2 separate regions of the Homo sapiens genome follow, and region 1 is linked to region 2. A link means that fine-mapping ties the variant in region 2 to the plasma level of a protein whose gene starts in the linked region. Region 2 holds a variant in brackets. A gene starts in the other region. All regions are shown on their forward strands. Region 1 holds the start of PRSS27 (serine protease 27). Region 2 holds the start of LOC107986512 (a long non-coding RNA gene).

Evidence for each region. PIP is the chance, under the fine-mapping model, that this variant and not a neighbour inherited with it causes the effect. The UK Biobank Pharma Proteomics Project read protein levels with antibody pairs (Olink). The fine-mapping took linkage between variants from a reference panel, not from the people measured, so its PIPs are less certain.
Region 1: it holds the start of PRSS27, and the variant in region 2 is fine-mapped to the plasma level of the PRSS27 protein (UK Biobank, PIP above 0.99).

Annotation. Positions count from the first base shown.
Region 1 is chr16:2,714,221-2,725,516 of GRCh38, forward strand. It overlaps PRSS27 (serine protease 27), which reads right to left and starts at 6,004. Exons shown (of 6, transcript NM_031948.5): 1 at 5,895-6,004; 2 at 2,280-2,306; 3 at 1,498-1,660; 4 at 1-116. The coding sequence starts at 5,940. RefSeq lists silencers at 1,341-1,430, 1,541-1,590, 6,575-7,334, 7,465-7,534, 8,218-8,387 and 1 more and an enhancer at 6,274-6,841.
Region 2 is chr6:2,230,513-2,241,808 of GRCh38, forward strand. All of the region lies in intron 1 of GMDS (GDP-mannose 4,6-dehydratase), which reads right to left. LOC107986512 (a long non-coding RNA gene) reads left to right here and starts at 856. Exons shown (of 2, transcript XR_007059405.1): 1 at 856-938; 2 at 2,071-3,799. The variant T/C (reference allele first, on the strand shown) is at 6,740.

The DNA.
Region 1 (11,296 bases), not on the chromosome of region 2:
CCTGGTACAGGGGGTTGCTCTCCACCTGCCTCACCCGGGCATACATAGCGTGTGGTCCCGGCTGCACTAGCTGCCTTGCCCCCAGCAGGACCTGGTACAGGGACGTCTCAGAGGTGCTGGCGGGAGAAACAGAGAGGCGGCGTGAGGCGGCCCCTCGTGTGGGGACAGGCCCGGGAGGGGCTGGGGCTCCTCTGGCCACCACCGTGCCCCACACCTCTCTCTGCACAATGTCTTCGAGAGTCATCTCTAGGACAGCCAGGTGCAGCGGTGATGCGTGTTGACATTGAAGCCAGACCGCCCGACTCAGATTTCCACCTCCACCCCTGGCCGCTGTGTGGCCTTGGGCAAGTCACTTAACAAGTTCTCTGTGATGCAGCTTTCTCACCTGTGCTGTGGGGACAGTCACAGTGCCTACCTGAAAGGCTGGCTCGGAGAGAACCACCCTCCAGGTGCAGCAGGGCCAGCCCCACCTGCGGGCCTCTGGCAGGTGACCTGCCCTCTCTCAGCCCGAGTTTCCGATTTTTTTTTTCCCCTAGAGACAGAGTTCTCATTCTGTCACCCAGGCTGGAGTGCAGCAGTGCAACTGTAGCTCACTGCAGCCTCCAACTCCTGGGCTCAAGCCATCCTCTCGCCTCAGCTTCCTGAGTACTTGGGACCACAGGCACCACTGCACCTGGGGTTTTTTTGTTTGTTTGTTTTTTGTTTTTTAATTTTTTTTTATTTTTAGTAGAGACAGGGTCTTGCTGTGTTGCCCGGGCTGGTCTTGAACTCCTGGGCTCAACTGATCTGCCCGCCTTGGCCTCCCAAAGTGCTGGGATTACGGGTGTGAGCCACCGTGCCTGGCCGTGAGTATCTGAATTTAAGATGTGGGGTTTTTTTTGTCATGATATTCTTTTAAAGATCAAGAAGAAAAAAAAGAAAAAGATGTGGGGTTTAAAATAATTAGAGCTGCGGTGTTGAGGTGTGAGGTGAGGGGGCCTGGGACACCCGGAAGGTGTGGGACCAGGTGGTTCATACATGGCAGAGGGCTGGGTGGCCTGGCCTCTGCTCAGGGCTTTCTGGGGTGGTTCAGGTGGGTGAGGGGAGGAAGGGCCGTTCTGTCTGGTCCTTGGGCTTTGTGAGCAGAGTTCCTCCCGGGAAGAGTGTCCTGGAGCTGAGGTGTGTGCGGGATGGGGAAAGGCCAGGAGGGGCCGGTGGGCAGAGCCTGCCGGGCCGCTTCTGCAGGGACCCACAGGGAGTGGGTGAGTGGGTGGAGGGGATGGAGGGGGTCGGGGGGCGGTGCGAGGCACCTCCCGCGGGCGGGAGCAGCGGTTGCAACTGGAAGTTAGCCCTGGAGTTGGACCTAAGGGAAGCATCTGGGTGGGAGGGGCTGGACCAGGAGCCCCCAGGGAGGTCACCCGCAGGATTTGGCGCGGCGGGCGCTGTCCACGGTGCTGAACCGGTCGCGCGCGGGGCGCTGTCAGCGCTATGGGCGGGGGCAGGGGCGGGCGGACTCACTTGCGGAAGCAGTGCGCAGCCGTCAGGACCCACTGCTCCGCGATGAGGCTGCCCCCGCAGAAGTGGCTTCCGTTGCGCTGGATGCTGACTTGCCAGGGCCACTCGCCCTCCTGCGTGTCCTGCCCGCCCACCATTCGGTTCAGCATCCTGGGGCGACCACAGGCTGGGGGAGCATGGGGAGCGGGTGGGGGCGCTCACTGGGGCTGGTTCCATGGCCGAGGCCCAGCTCTCAGCCTCACACTCCAGTCCTCGGCCCTCCTGCCCCTGACCTGCCCGAAGACCTTGGGGAAGTCGGAGGCCTGGGCTTCGGGGCAGTCTGGGATACAGGCAGACCCTCCCCAGCTGCCCCCCAAAGTCTCACTCTCCTCGCCGAGAAAGGCAACCTAACACCTGCCTCTTGGGGGCCACGGAGGCACTGAGATAACCCAGGGAAGGGTCTTGTCCCAGGGCCTGACCCAAACAGGTGCCTGGAAGGATAGAACAGGTGTCAAGCCCTCTGCAAGGGAGCCACCCAGAGGGGGCCAGTCACGGTTCAGGGTGATCCTCAGACCCTGCCGCCCTCATCCTGCACCGCGCCTCAAGGCTCTGTGCTGCCCGTCCTGCTCTTGTGTGGACCTTCCTCCTCCTCTCCTTTCTGGGCTCCAGTTCCACACAGCCCCCACTTTCCCCTCCTCTGGAATTCCCCAGTGTCCTGTGCGTTCCAAATTCCCTCTGGCCATGAGTGTCCCTGGCTCAGTCCAGCCGGCTCCTGTCCCTCCCACCCCAGGGCCCTGGGTGCTTACCTGTTGCTGCCTTGGCCCTCTGAGACCCTGGAAGTGAGGAGAGGGTGATCAGCCAGGCCAGCTGCAGCCTGGCCTGCCCTCCCCAACCCTGCAGCCCCTCTCCACTGACCCTCCCCAGCTCCTGAGGACTCCAGAGGGACAGTCCACAGAGGGACCTCACCGGAGAGCCCAAGGGCCTGCAGTTTCCCCCCCAGGGCTGGCTCTGCCGTATGCTCAGGCCCAGGCCCATGGGCCACAGCTTATCTGCAAGGGTGGATGCTCCTTGCCACATGGGGAGCCGGTCAGGAGATGCCAGTGAAGGGATCCCCAGGCTAGATGTCCCCTTCTCATCCTGGAAAGGGTCCTCTCCCTCCACACTCCACACCCATCCTTGTCTGGAAGTTTCTGGGGAGGGTCCAGCCTCCAGCCCTGGCACTGTAAGGTTGGCCTTTCCTCCCGGAACAGCTCAGAGCGGAAGAGGCCCGGGAGCTGTCTCTACATTTGAGCTGCCCAGGGCTCTCTCACAGTCTGCTCCGGAATGAGCTCCTTCCCCAAGTCTCACTTTGGTCCCGAGGCTGAGGCCCGAGCCCCACAGGCTTCTCCCTGGCCTCAGGGGAGTAGAGAAGGTACAGTGGTCTGCATTGGCCACCAGGGATCAGCCTTCTCAAGATTCCAGAGTCCCAAGAGCTGACCCCTCTCCCAGGCATGCAGCAGGCTTGGCAGACGAGGCCCAGGACCCCCTGCTGGGCTGTGCAAGGGGGCTTTGGAGCGGATAAAGTGAGGGGCCCGGAAGAGAAGCAAGATATGGGGTCGTTCGGGGGAACCAAGGATGGGAACATATTTTCTGCTGTCCATTGCCTCCCACACCCCAGGACACAAAGGGCCTCTTGCTGGGCCTTTAACCAAACACTGGAGCCTCTACCCCAGCTTGGAGACCCCAGCCAGGACCATAGTGTACAGCCCCAGGGTAGCAAAGCCTGGAACTTCCTGGCCTTGAGAGAGTCCTCTCACCACCCCTGCACTCCACGCGTCTGATTCTGTGGGGGCAAGATTCGCCCGTAGCTGGGGAGGGGTTAGAACAGCCACCTCCCCACACCTAGGCCCTCAGCTTCCCCTTAACCCCCAGTGCCTTCCGGTGCCCGGGCCAGCTGCTATGGACCATGTCTTCACTCTGCCCGGAAAAGATAACCAGTCCCCTGGAGTTGAGGGGCTGTGGGGACAGGAAGTGGCCATGGAGGGCCCAAGCACCCCCAGGGTTTTTACGGCATCCTCTTCCTTTCTGTCTGCCTCACAGTCTGGGGGGCACCCTCCCCAACACCACTGGTGGGCAGAGACACCCCGGGGGTTGCTGGACGATAAGGCAGCGGGCGGCGAGGGGGCAGCTGTGGATGGGCAGGAGGAGGAGGTGGAGAAGGTGCAGGGCAGGCAAAGGGGTGCCCTGCAGAAGCGGGGTCAGGGGCAACGGGAAATGGAGAGTCTGCCCTGGATGCTCTGCTCATTAATTTGTGCTAATTAAGTGCCCTTTAAAATGCAAACACTACCGGGAGGGTTATTCCCTGGCCCCCCGACCCCTTGCTCCTTCCAAGCCTGAGGATCCTGCTTGCAGAAGGGCGCGCACTGTCAGGCCTTCTCGCTCTCTGGGAGTCTGCAGGAGCTGTGTCTCCATGCTCCCTGCCTGAGCACTGCCCCTTCAGCGATGCCTCCTCCCCATGCAGATCCTTCCTTCCTAAAGTAGCCCTGTACTTCTCATTTAGGCAGAGTCTTCTGGTCTCTGAGTGCTTGCTCCCCTCACCCCACAATCTGGATGCCCTTCCCCCAGTCTCCATAAGTCCTAGTCTTTTTTTTTTTTTTTTTTTTAAGATGGAGTCTCACTCTGTTGCCCAGCCTGGAGTGCAGTGGCGCGATCTCAGCTCACTGCAAGCTCCGCCTCCTGGGTTCACGCCATTCTCCTGCCTCAGCCTCCCGAGTAGCTGGGACTACAGGGGCCCGCCACCAAGCCCGGCTAATTTTTTTGTATTTTTAGTAGAGAGGGGTTTCACCATGTTTGCCAGGATAGTCTCGATCTCCTGGCCCCGTGATCCGCCCACCTCGGCCTCCCAAAGTGCTGGCATTACAGGCGTGAGCCACCGCTCCCAGCCAAGTCCTAATCGTGATCTAGAGATCAAGGCCCAACTGAATGCTGCCTCCTCCAGGAAGCCTTCCTTGCTTGCTTGCATTGTCTACCTTGGAAGCCCTATACTCTCTCTTGAGCTCTCTGTCCTGATGGGAGCTCTGTCTACATCACCCTGGAGCCAGAATCAAGTCTTATCTTAGCCCAGGAGCTCCGAGAAGGCAAGGGCTGCATCTGGGGGGCCTGATCTCAGGGAATGTGTGGATGGACACAAGTGTGGCTGTGGGGGCTGATGGGAAATGGGGGATGTGGACAGCTGAGCCCTTCAGGGTGGGCGCCCTGTGGGGGCTGGAAGCAACAGCCAGGGGTGCCGGGGGTGTCAGGAGCATTGTTTGGGGCCTGGGCCTGTGATTCGCTGGTAGCTGGTGGGGATGGTGAAGCTTAGTGGGTACCACCAGCCAGAGACCTGGTGGGAGTGCCACCCTCGGGCTGGGAGTGAGGACGTGTCCAGGAGTCCAGCCTCTGGTCACAGCTGTTAGTGAACCGACTGCAAAACTCATTGCCAAAGAGTTTTGGCAATGACCTTGGTTCCTCACCCCGCTCAGGGGCAGTCACAGCCTTCCACCTCCTGTGCACATGGCTTGCTCAGAGGGCACCATCCTTGTGCTGGGAGACTGGGGGCATGGGGTGGGGGAGGCCGGGCCACTGAGGGGCCACTGGTGCCCTCCCACCCAGGAGAACAAGGAAGCCTGGAGTACTGGCTAAGCTGCAGCCTGGGATGACCTGACCCAGCCCTGGGAGGTGACTTGAGGACAGGGAAGTGTGGTGGCTGCCAGACTGGCTAGGCTAGCCCAGGAATGTGAGAGGTTTTCCCTGACAGAGAGTGTCCCGGCCCGCAGGGAGGGGCCTGGCAGGTGGGGCCCCCTGGCTGGCACCTGCTGTCCCTGACCCAGGACTGGGAGAGGGCACGGTGGCGCATCACCGGTTCCTCTGTCAGCAGGAGACAGGGCCCTCTGCCACCTACACCCCCTGCCCCCAGCTCTCTACTGAGCCTGCAGCCAGCCTGCTGGGGCTTCCGGGCACAGGCAGCAGCCCTCGGCTCGGCCACCCTCCCACCCCGAGTATGATGGTCCAGGCACTTGGAGCCTGAGTTCACATCCTGCACGTAGGAGGCCCCTGTCCTCACCTAGAGAATGGGGGGAGAGGCCGAGGTGGCAGGAAGCAGGGAGCCTGGCCAGAGCTGGCACACCAGTGCCCGCGGAGAGGCATGGGAGGAGGTGCTGCCCAGTTATGCCGGTGGGGTCCTCTGGGGCCTGTGCGCACACCTCCCACCCTGCCTCCCCACTTTGGACTCCCCACTTGGCACATCTGGAGCCTTCCCACCTGCTCAGGGGCAGGAGGGATGATGGCCTGTCCCACAGCCCCAGCCTGTCCCAGGGAGTAGGGGGCTGAGCCGGAGCCCCAGGCAGTGCAGCGGAGCCTGGTGGGGGACTGCACCACCAGGACCCTGCACCTTCACGACTCACCAAAACACAGCAGCAGCAGGAGCGGCACCGCCGCCGGCCGCCTCATGTCCTCAGGCCTGGCTGGGGCGCAGGGCCGTGGTCGGCGGTGGCAGAAGCGTTGGAGCACGAGCGAGGTGCAGGCTCCATGAAGTGGAGTTTTATGCTGGAGATGAGCACAGGCCCGGCTATGCGGCCCAACCCGTCGGCCCGGCCTGCCCAGCTCCTCTCCTCAGGAAGGAAGCGCCCAGAGCCGACTCCTCCGTGACCTAGCCCTGAACCCCGAGACCCCAGGGCAGACCCCTCACCCCAGCGCAGCACGGGGTGCCGTTGGCCTCGGTTCCTGGACCCTGAGCTGACCCAGACCCCCCAGCAGACCCCGAGCTGACCGCGGTGCACGCGAAGTCCGTCCAGCTTCATTCATTATTATTATTATTATTTTTTTTAATTTTTTGAGACAGAGTCTCGCTCTGTCGCCCAGGCTGGAGCGCAATCTCGGCTCACTGCAAGCTCCGTCTCCCAGGTTCAAGCCATTCTCCTGCCTCAGCCTCCTGAGTAGCTGGGATTACAGGCAGGTGCCACCACGCCCGGCTAATTTTTTGTATTTTTAGTAGAGACGGGGTTTAACCGTGTTGGCCAGGCTAGTCTCGATCTCCTGACCTCGTGATCCGCCCTCCTCGGCCTCCCAAAGCGCTGGGATTACAGGGGTGAGCCACCGCGCCCGGCCTCATTCAGTATTTTATTGAGCGCCGATGGAACACAGTGGGGCTGGGCCGCGCTGGTGGGAAAGTCAAGGCCAGGGGTGTTTGCGGGGCCGAGGGCAGGGGAGGCGATGGGACATGGGGCGGGGTCCGGAGTTGGCCGCAGCGACCCTCCTCCCGGGACAGCAGGCCCCAGAAGTTCCTCAGGCGCGCGCCAGCGCGGCCCAGGCGGCCGACCCGGGCCCCGGCTGCCATCCCTTGGAAGGGGCGGGGGCTTCCTGGCACCAGGCGGGGCGGAAGCGGCTCCGGGAAGGCCGGGCCGGGGTTACCGTTTCGGTGTCCCCGCCTGGCTCTGGGCGCGGCGCCGCGGCGGAAGAGGCTCGGGGAGGAAGTTATTTGGGGCACGGCGCTGACGTCAGAGACAGAGTGGGGCCGGGCCGTGGGGTCGGGGGCGCCGGACCTGTTTCCCCGCCGGCGCCGGGGGTCGGTACTCGCGGGCGGGGCGGGGCCGGGCGGCTCCGGGCGGGGCTGGGGGTGCGGCCGTTCCCGCCTCAGCCTTGTCCGCGCGCGTCGTGGTGCTGCCCTCTGGTGGGCGCGGGGCGCGGCGCGGGCGGCCAGGGGTGCAGAAGGGGCGCTCCCAGCCTCATGGTCCGGGCTCCGGCTCCCCGCATCGCCCTCCCTAGCCCCGCCCTCCCGCGTCTCCGCCTCCGCCTCCACCGCCTCCTCCCACCCTTCCCTCCCCGTCCAGTCCCTGGAGTTCCCGGGTCGGGGGTGGGAGGCGGGCTGGGCAGCCCCTGGGGGTCTGGAGGGAAGGAGGGAGGGCGAGGAGTGGGAAGAGGGGACTCCAAACGTATTCATTCATGTATTGATTTATTCATTCAGTCAGTCAGTCATTTCTGAGCAGATTTGAGCCCAATACTGTCCCCGGTTTGGGGAATACAAAGGTGACCCAAACAGACCTCACCTCAGTGTGAGAGAGAGAACATCATTTAGCAGAGAAATCTCTAATTATAAACCGCGACGGGCTGGGTGCAGTGGCTCACACCGGGAATCCCAGCACTTTGGGAGGCCAAGGCAGGCAGATCACCTGAGGTCAGGAGTTCGAGACCAGCATGGCCAACATGGTGAAACCCCGTCTCTACTAAAATACAAAATTAGCCGGGCTTGGTGGCGGGCACCTGTGATCCTAGCTACTCAGGAGGCTGAGGCAGGAGAATCACTTGAACTCGGGAGGCGGAGATGGCAATGACACGAGATTGCAACACTGCACTCCAGCCTGGGAGACAGTGAGACCCTGTCTCAAAAAAAAAAAAAAAAAAAGGAGAATAATAATTATCAACCACGGAAAGTGTTTCAAAGTGTCTGGGTGACCACATTTCTCCAGCACCCTATGGTCAGGTCACTGATGGGATCTCAGAGGCAGTCTTAGAGCCTCGCAGGTAACTATTTCCTCTTGGCACCTTTCTGTGTGTTCCTTGGTGTCTGCTCCCCAACCCTCCTTTTAAGCCCATTCCTCTAAGGGTGTCTCTGCCTTAAAATCAAGAAAGTGACAAAAGTCAAGATGCAGATCAGGGCCAGGTGCAGTGGCTCACGCCTGTAATCCCAGCACTTTGGGAGGCCGAGGCAGGCGGATCACGAGGTCAGGAGATCAAGACCGTCCTGGCTAACACGGTAAAATCCTGTCTCTACTAAAAATACAAAAAATTAGCTGGGCGCGGTGGTGGGCGCCTGTAGACCCAGCTACTCTGGAGGCTGAGGCAGGAGAATGGCCTGAACCCGGGAGGCGGAGCTTGCGGTGAGCCAAGATCTCGCCACTGCACTCCAGCCTGGGTGACAGAGCGAGACTCTGTCTCAAAAAAAAAAAAAAAAAAAAAAAAGATGCAGATCAGAAAGCGAGGACGCCAGGGAAACTTGGGCTCCTGAAGAACAAGGCACAGCCACGCCAGCGATTAGAGGATCGGGAACCCAGACCTCGCCTCCATGTCCCTGTACCTGGAGCCCACGGACCCAGGGCTGAGAATGGGCCCCTTCCTCATACCACCCACCAAACAAATGAAGAGGGCATTACAATCCAGAAAGATTTTTATGTTTTGTTTTGTTTTGTTTTGTTTTGTTTTGTTTTTTGAGACACAGTCTCGCTCTGTTTCCCAGGCTGGAGTGCAGTGGCACGATCTCGGCTCGCTGCAACCTCTGCCTTCCAGGTTCAAGCGATTCTCCTGCCTCAGCCCCGCTAGTAGCTGGGATTACAGGCCTGTGCCACCATGCCCAGCTAATTTTTGTATTTTTAGTAGAGATGGAGTTTCGCCATGTTGGCCAGGCTAGTCTCGAACTCCTGACCTCAGGTGATCCACCCGCCTCGGCCTCCCAAAGTGCTGGGATTACAGGCATGAGCCACCATGCCCGGCCATGTTTTTAAAATAATCAGTCCCTCCCTTCAAAAATAGAATTGGGGCGGGGTGCCATGGCTCATGCCTGTGAGTCAGAGGTTGTAGTGAGCCGAGATCGCGCCACTGCACTTCAGCCTGGTGGCAGAGCGAGACTCTGTCTCAAAAAAAAAAATTGAATTGGACATTTATCAACTCTCTGGAAGGGGGACAGTTTTCTAAGGTTAGAAGTCATGGCTGGGCATGGTGAAAGGAAGAGGGAAGGGTGCTGGTCAGTAAGCAGCAATAGCCACACACTCTCAGTCAGGTGTGAAAGTGAAATACAGACATTTTTGGCCAGGTGTGGTGGCTCACACCTCTAATCCCAGCACTTTGGGAGGCCGAGGCAGGCAATCACTCGAGTCCAGGAGTTCAAGACCAGCCTGGCCATTGTGGTGAAACCCCGTCTCTACTAAAAATACAAAAATTAGCCAGGCATGGTGGCACACATCTGTAATCCCAGCTACTGGGGAGGCTGACGCAGGAGAATCACTTGAACCTGGGAGGCAGAGATTGCAGTGAGTTGAGGTTGCATCATTGCACTACAGCTTGGGCGACACAGCAAGACTCTTTTTTTTTCTTTGAGACAGAGTTTCACTCTATCGCCTCCCAGGCTGGACTGCAGTGGTGTGATCTCCGCTCACTGCAACCTTCGCCTCCTGTGTTCAAGCGATTCTCCTGTCTCAGCCTTCTGAGTAGCTGGGATTACAGGCAGGCACAGCCATGCCCAGGTAACTTCTTTTTCTTTTTCTTTCTTTTTTTATTTTTTATTTTTTGTATTTCAGTAGAGATGGGGTTTCGCCATGTTGGCCAGGCTGGTCTCAAACTCCTGACCTCCTGATCTCTCCACCTCGGCCTCCCAAAGTGCTGGGATTATAGGCGTGAGCCACCGTGGCAGCCCTGACTCTAAAAAATAAAAAATAATAAATAAATAAATAAATAAAACCAGACATTTTCATGCTTGAAAGTTCTCAGAACATTTGGCCAGGCATGGTGGCTCATGACTGTAATTGAAACACTTTGGGAGACTGAGACAGAAGGAATCCTTGAGTTCAGGAGTTGGAGACCAGCCTGGGCAACACAGTGAGACCCCATCTCTACAAAAGAGAAAAAAATGTACTCCCTATGCGTGATTGTTGGAAAACCACCAGAGGAAAGATGCTCTTCAGCTAAAAGAGTAAAAAATCAAGAAAGCACAAGCTGTGGTCTGTGAAATGCAGACGTGGAACATGGCGGAGTACTGAAGGAAAGCTTGAGGCTGATGGTGAGGGACATTCTGGAAGGATAACTGTGCGCCAAGTCTAGAGGGCAGTCAGTGCTCATTGTGACACTGTGACTCAAGAGATAGGAAAGCTGGGACTGTCGTGATTGTGCTGTCATTGCACTAGCTCTTTAACCTGGCCAGATTACTGGAAGATGTGTTTCACCTAAACAAGGTGTAAACTGAGGAGGAGGAAGACAAGAGATCCAGGATGTGGGGAATCCAAATCAGGAGAAACCCAAGAGGGATTACAAGGATGACAGCTGGGGGATGTCCCAGTGATGGCAGCAGTGGCCCGTCTGGAGTGGTCGCTGTGAAGACACCAGCTGCAGTGGGGGAAGCATGGCCGGGTCTGTGCCCTTCATGGACCTGGAGGGGCTGGGAACAGACGGGAGCCCTGCCCCTTCTGAGTTGGCAGGGTGGGGAGCCCTGCCTTCCCAGGCACATCAGCAGCCACCCAGCTGTAGCTGCAGACCGGGGCATCCCTGTGCTCTCGGGGGGCCTGGAAGGCCCCCGGCCCCCACAGGCTCAAAGCGCCTGCTCCTGCTGCCTGGCTTCTCCCTGTTTCCAGCGCCCACTCCAATTTCAGAGCAAAGTTGAGGTCGAGACCAGGTGCTGTTGGAACCTGGCTGGGTGTGCCCGTGTTGGGGCAGTGCTGACGTGCCAGTCCCCTGCCACACTGGCCATCTCCGGACTTTGGGCGCTGATGAGCATGGGAGGGAGGCTGAGGGGGTGCTGAGGGCAGTCTCGAACTCCTGACCTCAGGTGATCTGCCTGCCTCGGCCTCCTAGCCCTGTCTGTGTTCCTTTATTTATGTTCTAGGAAAGAACGTATTTCCTGATCATTCGGGTTGTTGGCAGAATTCAGCTCCTTGTGTTTTAGGGCTGAGGTCCTGGCTTTCTCATTGGCTGTCAGCTGAGGGCTGTTCCCAGCTTGTATGTGCCACTGTATTCCTTGGCTGTGGCCCCTTCCTCCATCTGCAGAGCCAGCAATGGTGGGCTGGATTCTCACTTTGCATCTCTCTGACTCTTCATCTATCAT
Region 2 (11,296 bases):
AGCAACTAAAATGAAATTTTCCATAGTAACAATCTGGCAATAGTATAAACTTTTGGTAACGCTTAAATAGGTTAAAACCTATATGTTCAAACAGTAAATATTAAAAGACAACTCAATGGAAAGAAAATACTACATAAATTTAAATAATTTGAACTTACTAAATTAGTCAAAATAGCAAAATTGATAAGGGATAAAATTAAAAACCACCGTTGTCCATAAAAAAGCCAAAAGGAAAAAAAAAGGGACTTCAATACTTGGTCAACTCTTCCTATTTCTCCTTTTCAAGGTTTATATTTAAATGTAGAAAAGCAAAACTTTAACAAAAATCTACTATGTATTATTACTTCTCCTCAAAAAAAAACCCCAAAACCTTCCCATCCACCTTGAGAAATTCACTTAATGCATTTAGTATTCTCTTCCCCCCTCCCACCCCCCCCCCCCGTTCCTTCCCCTAATACCCAGGGTTGACCAACTCACAAAGCTAGCAGGATGCCTAAGTCAACATTATAAGGACAGGGGGACAAGAAAGAGTGCCTGGTCAAAACAACAAGATCTGTCACCACCCAGAAGGTCCCCAAAACTTGATTTCAGTTTCAAGTTCCCAAGTTAAACCTGAAACAACACAATGATGATTTGAATATTCCTTCCAAGCACACTCAGAGACTAGGGAGAGCTGCAGAAACAGAGCTGTAAGGATTCCCTGGGTATCTTGACTCCTAAGTTCTGCTAGTATATTCTTTGTGAGGTATGAAAAGTGCCCAAGGGCCAGGAACAGTGGCTCACACCTGTTATCCCAGCAGTTTAGGAGGCCTGAGGTGGGCGGATGGCTTGAGCTCACAAGTTTGAGATCAGATTGGGCAACGTGGCAAAACCCCATCTCTACAAAAAGAAAAATACAAAAAGTAGCCAGATATGGTAGAACCCACCCAAAGTCGCAGGTACTCAGGGGGCTGAGGTGGGAGGATGGCTTGAGCCCAGGAGGCGGAGGTTGCAGTGAGCTGAGATGGCTCCACTGCTTTTCAGCCTGGGCAATAGAGCCAGACCTTGTCTCCAAAAAAAAAGCCTAAGGAATTTGCTCAGCATGCCAAAGGAAGTGGTTAAAATGAAATCTGAAACAACCAACAAACGAATGCTTACCAAGCACCTTTTATGGTGCTCAATATCAAATGGGTACCAGGAAGAATGAAGTATTATAAAGTATAGTAACTCCAAATTCTTCCAGACAGCCCTGGTTTCCAACATTCAGTTCCACTCTAGATCATTTATATATGAGATAACGTGTGTCCTACCTTGGAGTCAAGAAAAAAAATGGTCACCACAGGTTTAAGACATGATCCCTATCCCCAAGAAGTTCATATTTCGGTTCTGAGCAAATGAAATCAGATAAATGAAATTGTTTTTCATTTCAGAATCTGAACAAATGAAATTGGACAAATGAAATTTTTTTAATAGTATTCAATAGGTGGTTCCCAAATGTACTGTATGGACTAATGCCAATCCATGACACATTTTTAACCCGTTCTTTAGCAAAATGAAAAAAATGGAAATGAGAAAAAGTAGTTCACATAGTCAAAAGTATATAATTTGGTGAGTGTTCTTTATTCTGGGAGCATGTTCTTCTTACATTTTGGTGTGTAAAACGGGTTTTTTTTTTTAAATACTGTGATAGCAGACAGCAATTTGTTACTCCTAAGATTCTTACTTTCAAAATAACCTAGCCACCATATATCAATCTCAGGTTTTTACCAGTCTATGTAAAATCTAACACTCCATGAGCTACTGACATTCAGGATTTTTACTCATTCATTCTCCTAGACCCCAAAAGGGGGTACAACAAACACTTTATCCTCAATTCCTGATGCCCCTTTTGAAACATCAAACCATAACAATCTTTGTTTGTCAGCACTTATGGCCCATGAAATTTACTCACAACACTCTAATCAAAATCACAACCTCACTGGTGTGATCTACCACTCACATCCACTTTCATGTTTCTTAGAGGACTTCAAAACTGGTTTGTCATCTTACCGTCCACCATCATATATATCATCATTTTCTATCTTCGTTCAGGTAGGAAGCCACAAAAACCAATCTGCAGCTAATTGAATCAGAAATCTATGAAAGGTACAGTGCAGACTGAAGAAGATGACTGAGAGGCTTCATAATGAGGAACAGCACCCAAAATCACGCTGCGGAACAGCTCTCAGAGAACAGCACTGCAGTGACAGAGACGGCACCACTGCAGCACCAGCGCCGGTGCAGGACTGGATGCTCATGCACATCTCAGGCCTCCAGATGCCCGCGACCTTCTCCCCTTCAGCCTCTTCCATAACCACACTACTCCTTTCCTCCATCGGCTTCTCCCCTGACTGCACAGAAGCCCATTTCCCCACCATGACGAAAAAAAACCTTTCCCAGATCTAAGGCAAAGGGAAAAACATACAAGACAGAATGTAAATTTGTGCTGCCAGGGGCTGGGAAAGGAGGGGATGGGGAGTGACTGATGAATGGGTATGGGCTCTCCTTCCGGAGTGATCAAAAAGTGTTCTGGAACTAGAGTGGTAAAGAAGGTACGACCTCGTAAATGTACTAAATGTCAGTAATGATAAATTGTATGTTACATGTTACCACCAAAACAACAAAAACATCTCTGGCCTCCCTCAGATTCCACGATATTACTCAGTACTTTTGTTCTCTCTCCTCTCCCCTCCCTCCCTAGCTTCCTTCTCTTCCAAGCCTGAAATGCAAACATTTTCCTCCTCCTCACTCTCATCCTTCTGTCTCCACATTCTCTCATTTGGAGATATCATCTATGATCAGTAGCAATTCCACTATCCACCCTAAGGAAGAGAGCTCTACAGCAAACCTTAGAAAACTTTTTCAGTGAAGGGCCAGAGAGTAAACATTTCAGGCTTTCAAAGCCACATGGTCTCTGTTGCAGCTATTTAACTCTATGTGGAAGCAGCCAGAAACAATAAGTAAACAGGTGTTCTATGCTCTAACAAACCTTTATTTACAAAAACAGGGCTTGCCGTGGTGGCTTACACCTGTAATCCCAGCACTTTGAGAGGCTGAGGTGGGCAGATCACTTGAGGTCAGGAGTTCTAGACCAGCCTGGCCAACATGGAGAAACCCCAATTCTACTAAAAATACAAAAATTAGCCAAGCATGGTGGCAGGCACCTGTAGTCCCAGCTACTCAGGAGGCTGAGGGATGAGACTCTCTTGATCCCGGTGGGGGGCGCCGAAGTTGCAGTGGGCAGTGATCGCGCCACTGCACTCCAGCCTGGACAACAGAGGGAGACTCCATCTCGAAAAACAAAAACAAAAACAGGAGGCAGCTGGACTTGGTCCAGGGGATACAGTTTGTCGATCCTGCTCTAAAGTATGATACACTGCACATCTACATTCCCATTCCTTCTTATATGCAGTGTATTTCCTCCAGGATTTCTGAGGAAGTATGAACTCCAGATGTCATTCAATAAATATCTATTGAGAGCCCACCATATTTCAGACACTGCACTAGGGATACAGCAGTAAAATACAGTCTTGTCCTCATGGATTTACACAAACTGAATGTCATTGGTATCAACCATAAAAATAAAGACAACAAACAAAACAAAAACCCTTACTTCTCCTGACTTTCCCAATCCAACAATCCAATCAGTAGCTAAGTCCTTTTATTCTCCTCTCAAACAGCTTTCTTATTCCTTCCTATCCATCATACCTGAGGCTTCACCAAGAACAAGCATTCCTTGTGTACAAAAAGCAGACTCTCTTAAATAAAATATGCAGATTTCTAGATATTTCAATGATAACATCAAAATTCATGAAAATCAAAACAAGATCCTACTGGGAGGCCGAGGCAGGCAGATCACCTGAGGCCGGGAGTTCGAGACCAGCCTGGTCAACGTGGTGAAACCCCATCTCTACTAAAAATACAAAAAATTAGCTGGGCATGGTAGCGGGTGCCTGTAATCCCAGCTACTCAGGAGGCTGAAGCAGGAGAATCACTTGAACCCAGGAGGCGGAGGTTGCAGTGAGCCAAAATCGCACCACTGCACTCCAGCCTGGGCAATAAGAGCGAAACTCCGTATCAAAAAAAATAAAAAAAATAAAATCCTAGCAAACTTACAAGATTTGAAAAGACATAAATTTTCTGACCTCGAGGGCAGGCCCTATTAGCATATGGTAGACACCAGAGAAACATTCTCAAAAATGATAGGAGTAATCTCTAAATGAAGGTATGAGAGTTTACATCAGGTACAATTTTAAAGCAAAAAAAGAGAAAGCATTGAAATTAATGCAAGAAGTTTACGGTCACTCAGTGAGTAAATTAAAAACAAGTGAGGACCTGTAATCCCAGCACTCTGGGAGGCCAAGGTGGGCGGATCACCTGAGGTCTGGAGTTCGAGACCAGCCTGACCAACATGGAGAAACCCCGTCTCTACTAAAAATAGAAAATTAGCCGGGCGTGGTGGCACATGCCTGTAATCCCAGGTACTCTGGAGGCTGAGGCAGGAGAATCGCTTGAACCTGGGAGGTGGAGGTTGCTGTGAACCAAGATTATGCCATTGCACTCCAGCCTGGGCAACAAGAGCAAAACTCCATCTCAAAAAAAACAAAAAAACAAAAAAACAAGTGATGATACGTGTACACAAAGGTGCCACAGCCAACAGAGTTAGAATCATCCCCTTAGGGGTGATGGGGAAGCAGGCATATTCTTCTTCAGGGCTGGAAAAATGTCCTTCTGAGCTAGACTTCTTCAGGCCAACTGAGACTAATCTATCAGATTAAACTTACTAAACATTCCAACAAAATCAAACCTACTATACTTCCCATGCCTATACATACAGGGAAATATAAAATGCCTCCCCCAGGGACAATGCCTAATTCATTCCATACTAAGCACCCAAATCCAGGTCTTATCATTTTGTTCTTCAAGCAAAAAGAAAACAAATGCAAAGCTGGAGCTCCCCATAGTCTGCATGGAGACATAAGAGGAAAACTGGGGCCAGGCACAGTGGCTGACACCTGCAATACCAGCACTTGGAGAGGTTGAGATGGTAGAATTGCTTGAGCCAAGGAGTTTGAAACCAGCCTGAGCAGCACGGCAAGACCCCATCTTAACAAAAAAAAAAAATACAAAAATTAGCCAGGCATAGTGGTGCACATCTGTGATCCCAGCTTCTCGGGAGGCTGAGGCCAAAGGATCGCTTGAGCCCAGGAGGTTGAGGCTCCAGTGATCTGTGTTTGCACTGCTGCACTCCAGCCTGAGCAAGACCCTTTCTGGAAAATAAAAAAAAATAAAAAAAATAAGAAAAAAAAAAAAAGAGGAAAACTGGTCTGTGTTGCCAATCTGGTAAGTTTCAGGAACAAGGCAAACAAATGGTGTTGGGAGCCAGTTCTCTATGGGTCTCTCCAGTTTCTGCATGTCTTATGAGCAGATTGCACTGACAGCTTTTATTGGCTACTATCTTTCCTGTACAGGACATCTGTAGATAGCATTTTAAGATAGCAATAGTGTTTCTCTCTGGAGCAGATGGAAGATTTGTTTGCTATGCAGAATAATAAAAATAATGTCTCCCTCAAAGCAAAGGCTGGGCAGGATTATTAGTTCCCTTATAAAAAATTGGGGTTTCCCAATCTCAGATTTTCTCAACTGTGGTGCATACCCACTGCATGGGCAACATCCACCTAGACCCACCCAGCCACCGTGTTACCCACATGGTCTTTGAGGGGCAAGAAAATACTATACAAACAGAGCTGTCACAAACATGAAGTTCATACTGCCTGCTGACCCAGGAGTGCTGTGTCTTCTGCCATCATCCGTGGAATTTTAAGAAGCTAACTTGTTAGCCTGCAAGTAAGGTAAAATCTCAGGCCTCCCACAATTCTTGACAAACAGGGTTTCTGCTGTCTTTCTCCTTGACTGGGTTTACTCCAACAAGCATATATGCCACACTTGCATTTTGTCCTGCAGGTCTCTTGCAACAAAGCTTCCATTTTGAAGGATTCCACTGTAAACTACAATAAACACGTTTATCAATATTGATCACCAAAAAATACTACTAGTGTCTGCATATACTTGCAAAATTCCAATTCATCATTTTTAAAGAACCGATGTAAAAATATAGTTCGAATAAAGCAATACTAAAAATCTAACTTTTGTGAAAAGTGATAGAAATACAGTACCATTCTAAGAAACATAGAAAAATCATGTTTTGATTTTAAAAGATTTCTAAAAGTGCCAATTAGAGGCTTTTTCACTCAGCATTAAGGAACATATTTTTGTTAAACATGATCAAGCAATTCATTTCACATTACAATCAAACCAAATGCTCAAGCATAATATATATATAATACAACCAAGCTTTGGTGGTTCATTTTCCCAAGTGTAATTAGTCAGTATAAAGAAATACTTTCTATAAATCCCTAGTAAATACCTTTATTTTTTCACTCTTAAGTTTAAAAGAACTTAGTATGAAGATCTGAGAAAGGATTCCCCTAGAATCACATGTGGTAAATTGTTTAAAAGGCACAGTATGAACAGTCTGAAACAAATGAAGTAAATACCCTTCAGCCAAGAACGTCACTGCATATAAAATCATCTAACCTCAAGTCTATGTAACTCAATTCTACATAAGTAAATGCCAAAATAATATCCTGGAAAGCTGAGTCATTTCAATGAGTAAATTTATATAAACAATTGGGTTACTACTTATGGTAAGTCACAAGAT[T/C]TTGGCAGGAAAATTGCTTACTAGCTTGCCAAAGACTAGGTTTGGCACATTGGTGCCCCACTGCCAAGAACATTACTGATAATCAGCTTTCTATCCTATAGGATTACCTTTCAGACATGTTTTACTCACTCATTTCCTATGTATTAAGCTTATACAGGAATGGTTAATGCAACTGAGCACCTTACTTCTGGAAGTGTGAGATTCCCAAAATTCCTCAAGAAAGGAAGAAAAGCATGAGAAATTGTAAATTGGAAGTTTGGAAGTACCTTTTTTTTTTTTTTTTTTTTTGAGACAAAGTCTCGCTCTGTCACCCAGGCTGGAGTACAGTGGTATGATCTCGGCTCACTGCAAGCTCTGCCTCCCGGGTTCAAGCGATTCTCCTGCCTCAGCCTCCCGAGTACTTGAGATTCCAGGCGCCCACCACCATGCCAGGCTAATTTTTGTATTTTTAGTAGAGATGGGGTTTCTCCACGTTGGCCAGGGTAGTCTTGAACTCCTGGCCTCAGGTGATCTACCCACCTTGGCCTCCCAAAGTGTTGGGATTACAGGCATGAGCCACCTCGCCCCGCCTGGAAGTATCTTTAACATTAGGAAATGCAAATAATCAACAAATAAATAAAGGAGAAAGAAAGGAGAAAACTGAAATATACTAAGAATAGCCTGGTTAACATCAATCATGAAACTAAAGGGAAAGTGTTAATTTTCATGCCTTCTAAGTAAGAGCTACAGAAAGTTCTGGGAGACAGGGAAGAAGACTGGCTAAAGGTACAGCACAGCAGCATGGCCACCTTTAGGACTTGCCCACTCTACAGCAGCCACCTCTGAGCACTTTTAAGTCATTTTTAAGACAAAGAGGCCAGGTGCAGTGGCTCACACCTGTATTATCAGCACTTGGGAGGCCAAGACCAGAGGATTGCTTGAGGCCAGGAGTTCAAGACTAGCCTGGTCAGCTGGTGAGATCCTGTCTCTACAAAAAAAAAAAAAAAATAGTAAAAAAATCAGTCAGGCTTGGTGGCAGCTACCAGGGAGGCTGAAGCAGGAGGATCACCTGAGCCCAGGAGTTCAAAGCTGCAGCGAGCTATGATTGCACCACTGCACTTCAAACTCCAGAGGAACAAAATAATTCACTGTCTTCCCCCAGAAAACTGATTTTCCTTCCCAGTGGTTGCATTTCTGGCCATACTATTACCATCCAACCTGTCACCAAAATGCATTTGCATCCTTGATCTCATTATCCTCATACTTTTACTATTCTCATTCATCCTACATACCCCTAACTGCATTCCCAAGCACTTCTCCATCCTTCTCTCATTCCTTCCCACTGTGAGAACTTATTCATAATAAATAAGAACTATCACTTCATAAACACTACATGCCAGGAACAGTGATAGGCCTTATTATAATATAATCATCATTTGTAATCCACACATCAATTTGTGATGTGGGCATAATTAACTCCATTTTTCTACCCAAGAAAAACCCAAGAATTTAAAACTCCTTCCTCTATCCTAATTTCCCTGATTTGAACTTTACAAACATGTACCAAAATATCACACATACCCCATAAATATGTACAATTATTATGTACCAGTTAAAAAAAAAATCGTTCCTCACCAAAAAGTCACTTCATTCATTTGATATGTCCTACAAAGATGGACAGCTCCAAGTTTTCACTCTATCCTTACAAATTCTGACAACATACAACTCATATGAATTTCTTCTTAGTTTACAAACTTAATTTCAAATTCAGTAAAATTAATAGTTCATTGGTTTCATTTAAAAAAAAAACTATCCTGGCCGGGCACGGTGGCTCACGCCTATAATCCCAGCACTTTGGGAGGCCAAGGTGGGCGGATGACTTGAGGCCAAGAGTTCAAGACCAGCCTGGCCAACATGGCAAAACCCCAACTCTACTAAAAATACAAAAATTAGTTGGGCGTGGTAGCGCACGCCTGTAATCCCAGCTACTCAGGAGGCTGAGGCACAAGAATCACTTGAACCCAGGACACGGATGTTGCAGTGAGTGAGATCATACCACCATTGCACTCCAGCCTAGGCAACAGAGTAAGATCTGTCTCAAAAAAAAAAAAAAAAAATCCAATTGGCTTTATGTCTAAAACTGAAATTACTGCACTGCTTAAATATAAAGATAATTGCATAATTTCTCTATTGTACACATAATAAGTCAGCATGTAATCCAAACATCACACTACTGTAGACTAGGAGCAGCCCTTAGATCCCTAAGAATAACCAGGTAACCCTTTCACTTGACAAGTTAAGAAAAACACTCAAAAAATGTAAGGCTATACAATTAATTGGTATCAAAACCCAACCTCTGATTCCCAGTCCAGAGCTCTTTCAATTAATCACATGTAACAGTCTTTGATTAAGCAGGACAGTACTCAAGACATCTCTCTCACTTCCAATAATGCCAGACCTTTTTTTTTTTTTTGAAATGGAGTCTTGCTCTGTCGCCCAGGCTGGAGTGCAGTGGCACGATCTCGGCTCACTGCAAGCTCTGCCTCCCGGGTTCACCCCACTCTCCTGCCTCAGCCTCCCAAGCAGCTGGGACTACAGGCACCTGCCCCCATGCCCAGCTAATTTTTTTGTATTTTTAGTAGAGACAGGGTTTCACTATGTTAGCCAGGATGGTATCGATCTCCTGACCTCGTGATCCAGAGATTTGGGAGGCCCGCCTCAGCCTCCCAAAGTGCTGGGACCACAGGTGTGAGCCACCACGCCCAGCCCAATAATGCCAAACCTTTTATCCCAGGACTGCAAATCCCAGCAAGGAAGATTTAGAATGGAAGTCACTGCCTACAATCCTCTTATATGAGAAGATAAGACCAGCTCCCAGATCTGCTTTGCACAGTCTTGAAAGACTCACTGGACATTAAATCTGTTGGCCTCCCAGTACTTTATAGCCTTGTGGTTGATTCCAAATATTACAGAACTTTCTGCTTCTAGATAATAGATTCCCCATGCAAAGCAAGGCTAAATAGTAATACCTCCCACATTCAACTTCCTTTCCTAAAAGTCAAGAAATCTTTTATTATTCTGTTAACACTATGGAGGGAAGGTCCATTCCAGTAATGAGGCAAAGGCCACTACTATGTGCAGATTTATTTCCTATTTGATAAGAATTATTCTTCCAACCTGGCAGAAAAGATAAGTGACTTACCCAAAGCCAGTGCAGTTCAGAAAGAGCTAAGCAGTAATTCAAACACCTGTAATCCCAGCTACTCAGGCAGCTAAGGCACGAGAATCATTTGAACCTGGAAGGTAGAGGTTGCAGTAAACCGAGGTCACGTCACTGCACTCCAGCCTGGACAACAGAATAAGACTGTCTCAAAAAAAAAAAAAAAAAAAGAAAAGAAAAAGAAAACCACCTCATAGAAGCTCTCTGTTGCTTCAACAAATATACTTTGAACAAAATGTAATGCACTTTGAACGGTACCTGGCACAAACTAAATGCTCAGTACTTGTTAATTATTTTAATCTACCATAATTATAACTATCACCATCATCATACCACTAGACTATCAATGTCATAAGGAAGATGGTAATTCAGTCTGTTGCATTTGCTGTTCAAAGTGCATTACTTGTAGAATTGGTAGAGAAAAGGGAAACAGATCAGAAAAATTTTTCAAATCTACAACCTGGTCATGTGATAGTGAAAGAAAACAGCATTTTTCAGTAAAGAAAGCCAATGGTGCTGGGGAGCAATCACCTGCTAAAGAGGTTGGCATGGATAAAAGGGAGCCAGGTGCTAATAGTCAGAACAATGGGAAAAGACCCTGAAGGCATCTCAGACATCTTTGAGGCTGTCTCTCCCATCAGAGGCCCAGAGACCTAGGAGGACAGCATGGTTTGGGGAGACAGGCCCGGGGCACAGCTGGCCTGGCACACCTCAAGGAGTCCTGGAACGTCCTACATGCTGCTCCGACATCCTGGCTGCTGCAGTCACAGAATGTCTACCCAATGACCGTACAACCATTGTATCTTGGAAAAAAATTATTCGTTTTTGGTTTTACAGGCTCATAGCTAGAAGGAACTTGCTTTGAGTCTCAGACTTTGAACCGTTAAGTTGGTGCTGGAACAAGTTAAGAATTTTAGGGACTATTGGAATTGTATTTTGCATGAGAAAGATGATTGTATTTTGCATGTGAGAAGGATGAGATCTGGGGGGTCAGGGATGGAATGCCATGGTTTGGATCTTTGACCCCTCCAAATCTCACACTGAAATTTAATCCCCAAGGTTGGAGGTGGGAACTAATAGGAGGTGTTTTGGTCATGGAAGCAGATCCCTCATGAATGCTTGGTGCCATCCTCACAGTAATGAGTGACTCCTCACTCTATTAGCTCCCGCTAGAGCCGGTTGTTAAAAAGAGCCTGGCACCCCACACCCCACCCCACCTCTTGCTTCCTCTCTCACCATGTAATCTCTGCATACACTAGCTCCATGAGTGGAAGCCTAAAGCTTTCAGCAGAAGCAGATGCTGGTGCCATGCTTCTTGTACAGCCTTCAGAACCATGAACCAAATAAACCTCTTTTCT